Linked DNA regions of Homo sapiens. The protein of the gene in region 2 purifies or fractionates together with the protein of the main gene of each other region. This does not show direct contact. Each region holds a gene or a part of one and is shown on either strand. Other genes may lie near its edges.

Region 1 (3,651 bases), on a different chromosome or scaffold from region 2:
GATTCAGAGAGCGGGTCATATAGGCATCAGCTGATTGAGGTCTTCTCATTGGGGATGATGGATAGGGAGAGAGTTTGCTGATAAGAGGAGTCAAAAGATCAGCATATGCAGCTTTTGTAGGTTTCAGAAGTTTGTCAACATGAATATTAAGCATTTTCTGTTCAAAAGCACAAGAGAAGACAGAAGATGGAAGATTCTGAAGCCATGACAGTAAACTCAGATCCAAATCATCACAACCATTACCACATAAGAGGTCGATGCCAAGAAGCACTTCGCTTTCTGTAATTTCTTCTCCAGTTGCTTTACTCTGACAAAATTCTACACAGCATTCATAAAGCAGGCCTTTCATTACAAGCTGAAATAAACGATTGTTACTAGCCTTAAAACCAGCTTCACTTAGCTTCCTATCAGCAGGGATGAATTCTGCAACCATGACACAAGCCTCTTCAAAACAGTGAACTCGTGCGGTGCTGGGATTCCAGTCCTTAAACTCGGCATGATTGGTCAGACGAGGCAAAGTCAAAAGCAAACAGAGCTTACTATAGTCATCTTTAGAAGGACAGTATTCTTCTAGAGCATGTAAACATTGCACAGCTTCTTGCATGGTAAATTCCAGCTGTAAGAAAAATATAAATGATCAAATAATCACTATAAAAAACATGCTATGAAATATGAAAACGACAAGAGTACAAAGAATAAATTATATTGCCACAGAATACTCATATAATTTGTAGGATATGCAACAGCTTTCAAGATAGGAACATAATGTTTTCACAACTAAAATAAAAATAATAAACTTGGTTTATTAGTACATTAAACTTTTATCTATAAAAACACTGTTCTATTATAATTCAGGCATAAGACAGGATCTCACTCTGCTGCCCACGCTGGAGTGCAGGGGTTATTCATACACACAAATATAGTGCACTACAGCCTTGAACTCTTGGGCTCAAGTGATCCCCAGCCTCTAAAGTAGCTGGGACCACAGGTGTGCCACACTGTGCCCAGCTCTCAAATATATAATTTTTTAACGGTAAGAATTTTTTTTCTAGAAATGAAAATTGAAGCATGCCAATGTTCAATTGTTTATAAACTTTGCTATTATTCCAGCTTACCCAAAAGGCAAAAGAGCCACTCTGTTAGTCCAAACTTACCTTAGAGCAAAATTGTGTGGAGATAGAAAGTCAAGAAAAGGGAGCCGAGCACAGTGGCTCACACCTGTAATCCCAGCACTTTGGTAGGCCAAGGTGGGCAGATCATGAGGTTCGAGACCAGCCTGGCCAACACAGTGAAACCCCGTCTCTAATAAAAATACAAAAAATTAGCCAGGCACAGTGGCGGGCACCTGTAATCCCAGCTACTTGAGAGGCTGAGGCAGGAGAATTGCTTGAACCCAGGAGGCAGAGGTTACAGTGAGCTGAGATCGCACCACTGCACTCCAGCCTGGGTGACAGTGTGAGACTCCATCTCAAAAAAAAAAAAAAAAAACAGAAAGGGAATGCCTAAAGTTGACTTACTACAAAACAATCCAGACAGACCAAAATGGAAGCTTAGCTGAGAGACAAATTATAATAATTTGTATAGTGAATATTGTCTTTGAATCATAAGCTTTTAATGATGTAAGGAACTTCAGCACTCACCTAGTCTAGCCACCATATCTTACATATGGGAAAAGTCAGGGTACACATTTACCAAGGTAATTCAGTTGATTAGTGGCAAAGACGGAATAAAAAATAGGTCTCCTAACTCATGTTCCAGTGTTCTTTTCACTTTTGAACATCATTATCTGGCAAATATATCTGTATCTGAAAGTCCCCACTGTAAAATCCTTTGGTTTTTGCCTCAGTCTGAATGTTTGTGCCTCCCTAAAATTCCTATGTTGAAATCCTAACCCCGCAAGGTAATGGTATTGGAAAAGTAGGGCCTTTGGGAGGTGACTAGGTCATAAATGCTCAGCCCTCGTGAATTAGATTAGTGCCCATATAAGAGACCCCAGAGAGCTAGCTAGCCTCTTTAACCAGCTGAAAACACAGCTAGAAGGCACCATCCATGAACCAGAGCACAGGCCCTCACCAGGCAATGAATCTGCTGGTACCTTGATCTTGGACTTTCCAGCTACCAGAACTGTAAGAAATAAACTTCTATTGTTTACTAGCCCCCTAGTTTATGATATTTTGTTATAGCAGGTCAAATGGACTAAGACACTTTACTTCAGTTAACAATTACCAGAACTTAATACAAGTTTTCTCGGTTTTAGTATTACACTGAATCTTTAAAAGTCACTTTACTAATCAAAATGAATTTAATTTCATTAAATTTAAATAGTCATGAAGACAAACATTTCAGCAAAAAAAAAACTATCTCTGGATCAAAGACAATACAGAAAAGACAGAGAAAAAGGACATAAATATAACCAACCCACTTCCGGGATTTAAAAAAAAGAAGAAATGATGAAGAGTCATCAAGTCAAACTTTATCTATTGCTGACTTACCTTAAACAAGAGAGATGCACACACTCTTCAACTAGCCAGCTATTTATATATCTTGGCTTAAACCATGGAACAAGTTTAGAAGCGCTACAGAATGAAAATACTACACCTGGAAAACACCAGATCTTGCCCCATCCCAGCTCATAAAAACTCTGAAAACTTGTGATGCTAATCCTTCGTTTTAGTGACTAAAATACTTATGACTGAAAACAAGACTAGGGCGCAAACCTTCAGGAATAAAAATCTTACATGCTGGGGCTCATCTTCTGCTGACATCGCGTTGTTAACACATAAAGCTTCTAAAAACTTCTGCTTCAGGATAATATAACGAAACCTGTGGGAAAAAAATGAAGCATTAATTTTTCCAATGTCTGATGTCAAATATACTTAGAAGTTACTATGTAAGTACTTTTGCTTTAGGAAAATTATTCAAATAATTTACTAGGCTTCTTATCACATTGAAGCCATAACTGAAGTTCAGTCACAAGTAATCACAATTTAACACTCAGAGAATGAATTTATACTTCCAATATTAATTGTAAACAACAATCCAATTTTTATGGAAGATATCAAATGTTACCTAATATTAAATCAAGTCTTATATCCAAAATGTTTTGTTTACCTTACATCCTGTTTTTTATTAAAAAAATTTTAACAAATAATAGTATATATTTATGGGGTATGTTACATTTTTAAATACATATACATTGTAGAAAGATTAAATCAAATATTTTCTTTTTAAATATGAGAAAAGTCTAATAAAAAATGGGGCTGAAAGGGTAGGAGAAAATGAACATTTCTAAAACACTACAAAATAACTAGAGACTTAAAGCTTTTTTCCTTTTCTTTTTTTTTTTTAGAGACAGAGTCTTCTGCTCTGTCACCCAAGCTGGAGTACAGTGGCATGATCACAGCTCACTACAGCCTCAAACTTTGGCCCAAGCAATCCTCCTGCCTCAGCCTCCCAAGCAGCTAGGACTACAACTGTGTGCCACAGCACCCGGCCAATTTTTAAAATTGTTTTGTAGAGACCGGGTCTCACTTTGTTGCTCAGACTGATCTCAAATTCCTGGCTTCAAGCAATTCTCCTGCCTCAGCCTCCCAAAGTGCTTGGATTACAAGTATGAGCCACTGCACCTGGTCCCAATTTAAAGCTTTTTAA
Region 2 (3,651 bases):
TGGTTGCCCCTTAGGCACTGCAAACTCCTAAAGGTCTGAACCTGAACTTTTCTTCCAGGAAATCTCCTGTGATTACAGCCCCTATCCATGGCCTCATCTTTCCCATCATCCAGGTTCAGAATCAGTCTTCTGAATCCTTCATTTCCCAATATGTCAGCCTCTAAGTCCTGCTGATTTTATCTCCTCAGTGTATTTATTTATTTTTTTTTTTTGAGACAGAATCTCACTCTGTCTGCCCAGGCTGGAGTGCAGTGGTATGATCTCAGCTCAGTGCAACCTCCACCTCCTGGGTTCAAGCAATTCTCCTGCCTCAGCCCCCTGAGTAGCTGGGATTACAGGTGGGTGCTACCACTCCTGGCTAGTTTATTTTTTATTTTAGTAGAGCTGGGGTTTCATTATGTTGGCCAGGCTGGTCTCAAACTCCTGACCTCAAGTGATTCGCCTGGCTTGGCCTCCCAAAGGGCTGGGATCACAGGTGTGAGTCACTGCACCCAGTCTGCTCAGTGTATTTTTGAGTCCTCTGTCTTTCTCCAGTGAGCCTATTCCACTGTAGCTGTGGGTCCTGCCCTGGCCTAGAAGGATAACAGATCTAGGATGTGGAACCTCTAGTGGTATGGATGGGGTGGTCTGGCAGGGACCTGTCAGGGAGGTGGCCATGCATATCCTGCTGGTGAATAGCCACATATTTGCTAACCCTTAGGCTCCTTACCGTCAGCTCTAGCTCTTGCATCCCTCTGGGTATGGCTGTTGGCTGGGCTCCCTGGGAGAGCAGGCCCTGGATCCATCAGCTGAGCCAGGGGGCCTTGCCCAGTAGCTCTGAGGCCAGCAGGAGGCATCTCACTGGAGTGGGGTCCCTGACAGACCTGGGTGGACCAGGGTGGACTTGGGTCTGGGCCAAGTAGGTCCATGCCTGGCCCCAAAGGCATGGGTGGCAGGCTATGGCTACAGCAAGTGCCCTCATCCAGTGGGGCCCCCCGATCTTGCTGGGCTTCTTGGATGGGTGAGAACTCCTGGGAGGAGTCCCCAACACTCACACGAAGTGGGGGCGAGCCAGAGCCTCCAGTTTTCTTCCGGCCCTTGGCCAGCTCGGCAAAGGAGGTGACCCTCCTGGGTGGGGAGCCAGGCCCGGCCATGGCTGCAGGGCCCTCACTCAAGCGCACTGGGCAACTCAACATACGTTCCAGCGAGCCCAGGCGGACAGGAGGGCTGCGCTGCAGGCTGCGATCATAGCTGCGGGAGCGCTGACGTCCAGTGCTGAGGTTGGGGGGTGAAGTATTCGTGTATACTTGTCCCTCAAGCACAGTGGGGCCCACAGCAGCTGCTGCTTGGGTGGAGGAACTCACTGCTTCTTGTTCCTCTGGCTGGACTTCTGGCTTCTGGAATAGGTAATACTCAGAGGGCTGGCTGGGGCCTGGGTCTGGGCCAGGGCCTGGTGGGGGACTTATCTTGGTGTGTTCCTCAGAGCAGCTAGTGATGGAAGAGCCAGCAGGGCTTGGGGATGATTGGGAAGATAGGTCACAGGTGACAAGTTTATAGTAATTTTGTGTGGCCACAACAAGACGGGCCTGGCTTTGGAAGCAGGCTGTGAGGTCAGCCACTGCTGGGCACGGCTCACAGTGTGGGCGGTAGGAGTTGCAGTTGGCATCAAGCTCAGGAGAAGAGGCATGAGGGCAACCATAGCCCCCTTCCCTTCCTCCACTTTCAGGGTGATGGGACTCATAAGACATCTTAGACTCAAATGGGGAGGGCTGCAGATCCAGATAGAAGGCGCCAGGGTCTGAGTGGCTGCAGAAGGAAGAGTCGCTGCAGGACTGTGGGGCAGAGTTGAGATTGGCACGGGGGGTGCCATGCATCTTGTTGTAGAGGGTGCTGAAGGTGACCAGCACACCATCTGAACTGTTGCAGGAGGAGTCGCTCACATAGCCCATGGACTGGTCAGCTGCCTCGGACTGACTGGATGTGCTACTGCAGCGGCAGTGCTGGTCCCCTGAGCCGGAGCATCCAGGGTTCCTTGGGGATTCATCTGAACTGAGCTTCCATTCCTGGTCAAAGGAAAAGCCAGAGGTATCGCTGGCTCCACCCCCACTGCCACTCCCACCAGGTCCCCCACACTCATCCAGCTCCATAGTCTCTGCTTCCAGCTCTGGCCGGCAGCAGTGGCTGGTGCCGCACTGCTGAGTATCCAAGGTCATCACTGGCTCCTGTTCCTGCCCTTCCACCACTCCAGCCCGACTGCGTGTTGTCCCCCATGGCCTGCCCACTCTGGGGCCAGATGGTGGCAGCTGGAAAGAGGATAGATGAAAGTTGGGCTGGCCAGTGCCATGCAGGTGGAAGGACTGCTGGGTGGCACTGTCACCAATGCTGTCATCATACAGGTCACCAAGTCCTGGCTCACCCACACCCTCCTGCAGCAAGAAGGGGTTGTGTCGTTTGGGGGCTCCAGGGCCTCTTCCATCCCGACTCCTACTCTTGGTGCTGTCTATAGACCGTGCAGTTCCTCCTGGAGTAGAGTGCAGGCTGCTGAATAGCAGGGAGTCAGCTTGTCCTAGGTCTTGATCGGGCTGGGTGATGCCCAGCTCAGGTGGGCAGAAGGGATTAGGTCTTGTGCTCCCACCACCTCCACCTGCCCCTCCACAGCACTGCCTGTCTGGGACTTGGCAGTGCACCAGGGGGATGTGATGAACGATGAGGGTCTCTCCAGTCAGCTTTGGGGGACTATCCATTCTGGAAAGTTCGAATAAGGGCTTCAACAGCACCAGACACTGTCCCTGGAGCCCAGTGGGGCAGAACACATTTCATCAGGAGAGCTTGGCACCTGGAGAGAGAGGGAAAGAAAGGGAACCTAATGTCACCTCCCTGGAAGTCAGGGGCATGCCCTTCCCTACATCATTTTCAGATGGAGAAGAGCCCAGGAAGAGAAAAGGCTTGAGTCAAGATGGAGCTTGACCACACAGCCCAATAGGCAGGTGGGGACGTAACCATGCTTTCTGCATTGCACAGGTGCAGCACCTGAGGTCCCCCTTAATTTTAAGGTCACTATGCATCAAATTATGACAAAAGGCCAAGTCCTTCTAATGCCACATATGAAGGTTTGGGCAGTACTTTCCCTTTCTCTTTCAAGGACCCTCTCCTTGGCAGTAAACAATGACCAGTCCTTAGCACAAAAAAACTATGAATAATGACACAATTAAGAAAAAACCATCTAGGATGTTTAAGGCTTAGACACAGCTATAGCACACAAGTTTACAGCCAAGAGGGAAAATCATGAATAATATGAACTCATAGCAATAAGCTATAATTTTGCAAGAAGCATTTTAAAATATACGGTATCATCTGACCAAGTGACTGTTATCTCTGATCCCCTTTCTCGTCCTACAAGCCCCAGAATATTTGTCCCTTTCTGATGACCGTGGGCTAAGTATCCTTACTATCCTCACTACTATACTAGAACTTCTTGAATGCAGACACTGAGTTGGGCATTAGGGTGACTGCAAGTATGACTGATGTCAACCTCTTCCTCCTCAATGGGGGTGGGGGGACCTAGTTTTATGTCTTTTGTATCATTCTAACACATCACACAAGATAAACGTGAAAGGCATAATACATTCTTAACATGCGTCTAGCTCAGGATACAGACATCCTGAAGTGCCC
Region 3 (3,651 bases), on a different chromosome or scaffold from region 2:
CATGTGCCCTGCAAGGGAGAGAAGAAAGACACCAGTGAGAAACAGATGAGGGATGTCCAGCCTCCTTCCTTGGGGCACAGAATACCAGCACAGAAGCAAGTCCCCTGGGATAAGAACATGTCAGCTCTCTGAGGATTATGGGGACTTGGAGTTAAAGGGGGCCTAGGCACTCATGGGGCTCTATCTCGCAACTTCAGGAAGAAAGAGGCAGAGGCACCAAGGGGATGTTTGAGATAAGTGCACTGGATGTCACTCAAGAAGCAGCCCTAAATCTCATTCTCCGACTGTTACATAGCTGGTCATGACACTGGGGCATGGATATCCTGGGGGCTCACCACAGGATAAAAAGCTCTGAACTTTAGGTCGGAAGGATAGGAAAAGCTTGATCCTCAGGATACAAAGGATTTGCTGCTCAGAACCACTCTCTGGTCCATGGGCAAGGTGGTCAAAAAGACCAGAGAGCCCAAGTGCAGCCTGCACTTCCCAGGAAGAAAGACCCAATTCAGACATCTGGCTCCCTGAACATCCAGATCATTGGGATCTTATAGGGGAAAACAGCAACTCTGCCAGTTCCACTCTCCTCAGAACTGGCCAAAACCAGTAGTTAAGGCTATCCCACTCTAAATGAGAACAGGCTGCAGCCAGAGACATCCGTGGCATGTGAGCCAAGGTGTCAGGGAGACGACAGTCCTGTTGGCACGTACCAATAGAGGTGAAGAATTCGGCCTGCACACAGCTCAGGACACCAAACCAGGCCATCAGCAATGCAGACACCCAGAGTTTCATGGTCACAGAGGGAAGTGTCTGAAAGGCATTCAATGACAATCACTGGATCAACAAAGTGAAAAAGACTAATTTAGGTGAGGAGACACATAGGCATGTACACACATATGCAGATAATCAAACATATCAAAATCCTGGCCTAGCACACAGAAGCTAAAAAGGACAAACAGCAGAAAGAACAAAGAGCGTGCAGCCAGTGATGTGTGCTCAATTCTGGTCCCTGCTCTGGGAAGTCACGTGCCCTGCGGAGAGAGCCCATCCTCTCAACTCCCAGCAACCACCTGTACCATGAGAAGGCGGAATCGCAGTGGGGTACAGTCAGCTCGGGTTCCAATGGTCTGTCAGTCCAAGATTCTGGCCCACTCCTTCTTATTTCACAGACTGCTGTTTGTTTCTATCTTACCTTCCAACACATATGCCAGGACAGTGCCAGGTTTTGGGGAACCAGTCCCTGCCCACAAGGAGGCAACAGTACATGAGAGACAATAACAGAAAGATAATTTGACACAATATCCTCCAGAGTACCAACACCCAAACTAAGGTGTACAACAGATGGCCAGCCAGAAGAGGAATAAAACTAACCCTTGTCAGTCTGCACCTGCCAGAGAAAGAGCAGTCAGAGGAGACAGTCTCCTAGGTAGACAGTGTTCTTCCTGTAGTAAGGCTCCTTGGCAGACACTGTTCTCACTGGCCCGTCACCATTCATTCACAAATATTTACTGAAGACCTGCAGATGCCAGGCACTGATCTAGGCACTCAGGATACAAAAATGAATATGGCACACATGGCCAAAACCTCAGGCTGGGCTGCTGACATGGGAAAGGGGCCAGCTACTGTCTTCTCATCAGCCCAGAAATAGGCACAACCTGAGACAAACCCCACTGGCAGTAAACCTCAGTCCACAACAGAAGCCTCCGATACCGTCTCCCAGCTCAGCCATGCAGCCTAGACTGTGCTGGAGGATTAGCACCCATCTGTACCCCAGCTCTGCCGGTCTTCTTCCTGCCCTGCTTTTGAGCACCCCACTGGAGTGCTCAAATGGAAATTCACTAAGACAAAGCAAGCAAAACAAAGGAAATACAAATGCTTTCCCAAAAAAACATAAGCCTTATCTGACAGAATTCTAAGTCTAAGATAATGCCAGTTCATCAGTTTTTTGCCCGCCATACTTGATTAGACACACAGCACACCCACCATTCCTCATCTTACTCTTTCAGAAGAAATCCTAATCCATTGAGATTCCAGGTTAGGCTCAGAGAAGGCCAACCACAACTCCCATCTGCAAATGGATCCTCTATCAGAAGGAAAGCATAAGTGAATGGCGCCATGTGTTCATGCCTATGCCAAATGTCTGCAGAGCTGACAGTCTTCCTGTCATAGTCTAGGTGTGGGGGTCCCAAGACACACAGGACAATTATCTTCCAACCTGGAACCTGCTGCAGGGTAGGGCGTATTGTGCTAAGGGGTCCATTAGGGAGTTAGAGCAGCAGAAGAGAGCAAGTCATCAAGAGAAAGTGAGTAAGCCTGGGCTTGCCCTGAGGCAGAGTCCAGGCCCTCCTGGTTCTAGCCACAGGTCTGCTCCAAGGCCTTACTATACTGTCTTCTCTATCCCAGGATTTCAGAAGGCTTCTCTCTTGCTTACACAAGCCCCTTATACCTAAGGGATTGGGTGTCTGTTTCTTGTTCCTCAAAAGGCTTGACTGGCTCAGGCTCAGCACCTTCTGTATGTATGTAGGGAGGGGACAGTGAAAACATAGAGCTGGGAGGATGTATCTGTGATCAGAAAGGGACCAGCTGACTGCTCCTCAGAGCTGGGGTGGTGGGAGAACAGGGCCCAGGCAGGTTCCAAACCAGACATGGTTGGAAGTGGGGAACCCAGCATCTCTACCCAGGTGTGTCTCCAGTTGCAGTTGCATACCTTTTTAGAGGCCAGATAAATTCCAGGGAGGAAGTCTGTCCATTCCTTTCAAATCATTCTGCTCCTATCATCTACGGTTCATACCTCACAACACTCAGGGAAAGCCAGGTTTCTTCATTACATGAATACCAGCTGTGATTTCTCTGGAATGTGCGATCTGGCTTAGACTGAGCCCATTCTTGAATCTCAGCCTGGAGGCAGAGCCTCAAAGAATCACAGATAGGGTTTGGGCAGAGCCTCAAAGAATCACAGATGGGGTTTGGGCAGAGCCTCAAAGAATCACAGGTAATTACAGATGACTTACCTACCAAGAGCCTGCAAAGTCTTGCTCTGGTGGGAGAAGGGGATAACTAACTCTGCTAGCCTGGAGAGCTGGGCACCTCCAAGCAGCAGCTCCCAGACTACCACATCAACACTGACATCTCTGGCAGGGGTACTCTGGAGCCCTACCCCATTTCTCCCAAGCCTGGGCCCCTTAACTCAAAAGGCTCTGTACAAAAAGTCCTCTAATTAGAGTCAGATTGGGAGGAGGCAGCATCCGAGAGGGACTGTGCCCCACAATGTGGGAAAGGCCAACCTCCAACCCATCTCATAACTATGCCCACAGCTTGCTTAAGACAGAGTAGGTGAAAGTATGTGTACCTGCTGAGTGCCCCTACAAAGTGTCCAGTGCTGCTAAAAGCCCTCCCAGAAACCCTCAGAATCCAACTGGAATAAGTCTGGAGGTGAACAATGTCAAACCCACTTTTATGAAAAACAAAGTGACATCTTGAGCAGAAAACCAATACTGAGTTTTATCTGTGCTGCATCCCCAGAGTTTAGAACAATGTCTGTCCCATACCAGGAACACAACAAAAAATACTTCACCACAGACTTGTTCAAATTAGGAAACTACAACAATAGAAGATTTTACATTTCTTCTATACAATGAGTTTTTATGGAGTATATTA

Evidence for each region.
Region 1: the proteins of RUSC2 (region 2) and WDR47 purify together in Homo sapiens (affinity purification with western blotting; one study listed by BioGRID). This does not show direct contact.
Region 3: the proteins of RUSC2 (region 2) and P4HA2 purify together in Homo sapiens (co-immunoprecipitation; one large-scale study listed by IntAct). This does not show direct contact.

The regions. Positions count from the first base shown.
Region 1 is NC_000001.11:109,011,103-109,014,753, forward strand, and holds part of WDR47 (WD repeat-containing protein 47), read right to left. Parts: intron 2,826-3,651; exon of another isoform or gene 2,824-2,825; coding exon 2,739-2,823; coding exon of another isoform or gene 2,718-2,738; intron 617-2,717; coding exon 1-616.
Region 2 is NC_000009.12:35,545,594-35,549,244, reverse strand, and holds part of RUSC2 (AP-4 complex accessory subunit RUSC2), read right to left. Parts: intron 2,816-3,651; 5' UTR 2,724-2,815; coding exon 710-2,723; intron 1-709. UniProt on the Homo sapiens protein: Associates with the adapter-like complex 4 (AP-4) and may therefore play a role in vesicular trafficking of proteins at the trans-Golgi network.
Region 3 is NC_000005.10:132,217,841-132,221,491, forward strand, and holds part of P4HA2 (prolyl 4-hydroxylase subunit alpha-2 isoform 2 precursor), read right to left. Parts: intron 805-3,651; 5' UTR 787-804; coding exon 705-786; intron 79-704; exon of another isoform or gene 9-78; coding exon 1-8. UniProt on the Homo sapiens protein: Catalyzes the post-translational formation of 4-hydroxyproline in -Xaa-Pro-Gly- sequences in collagens and other proteins.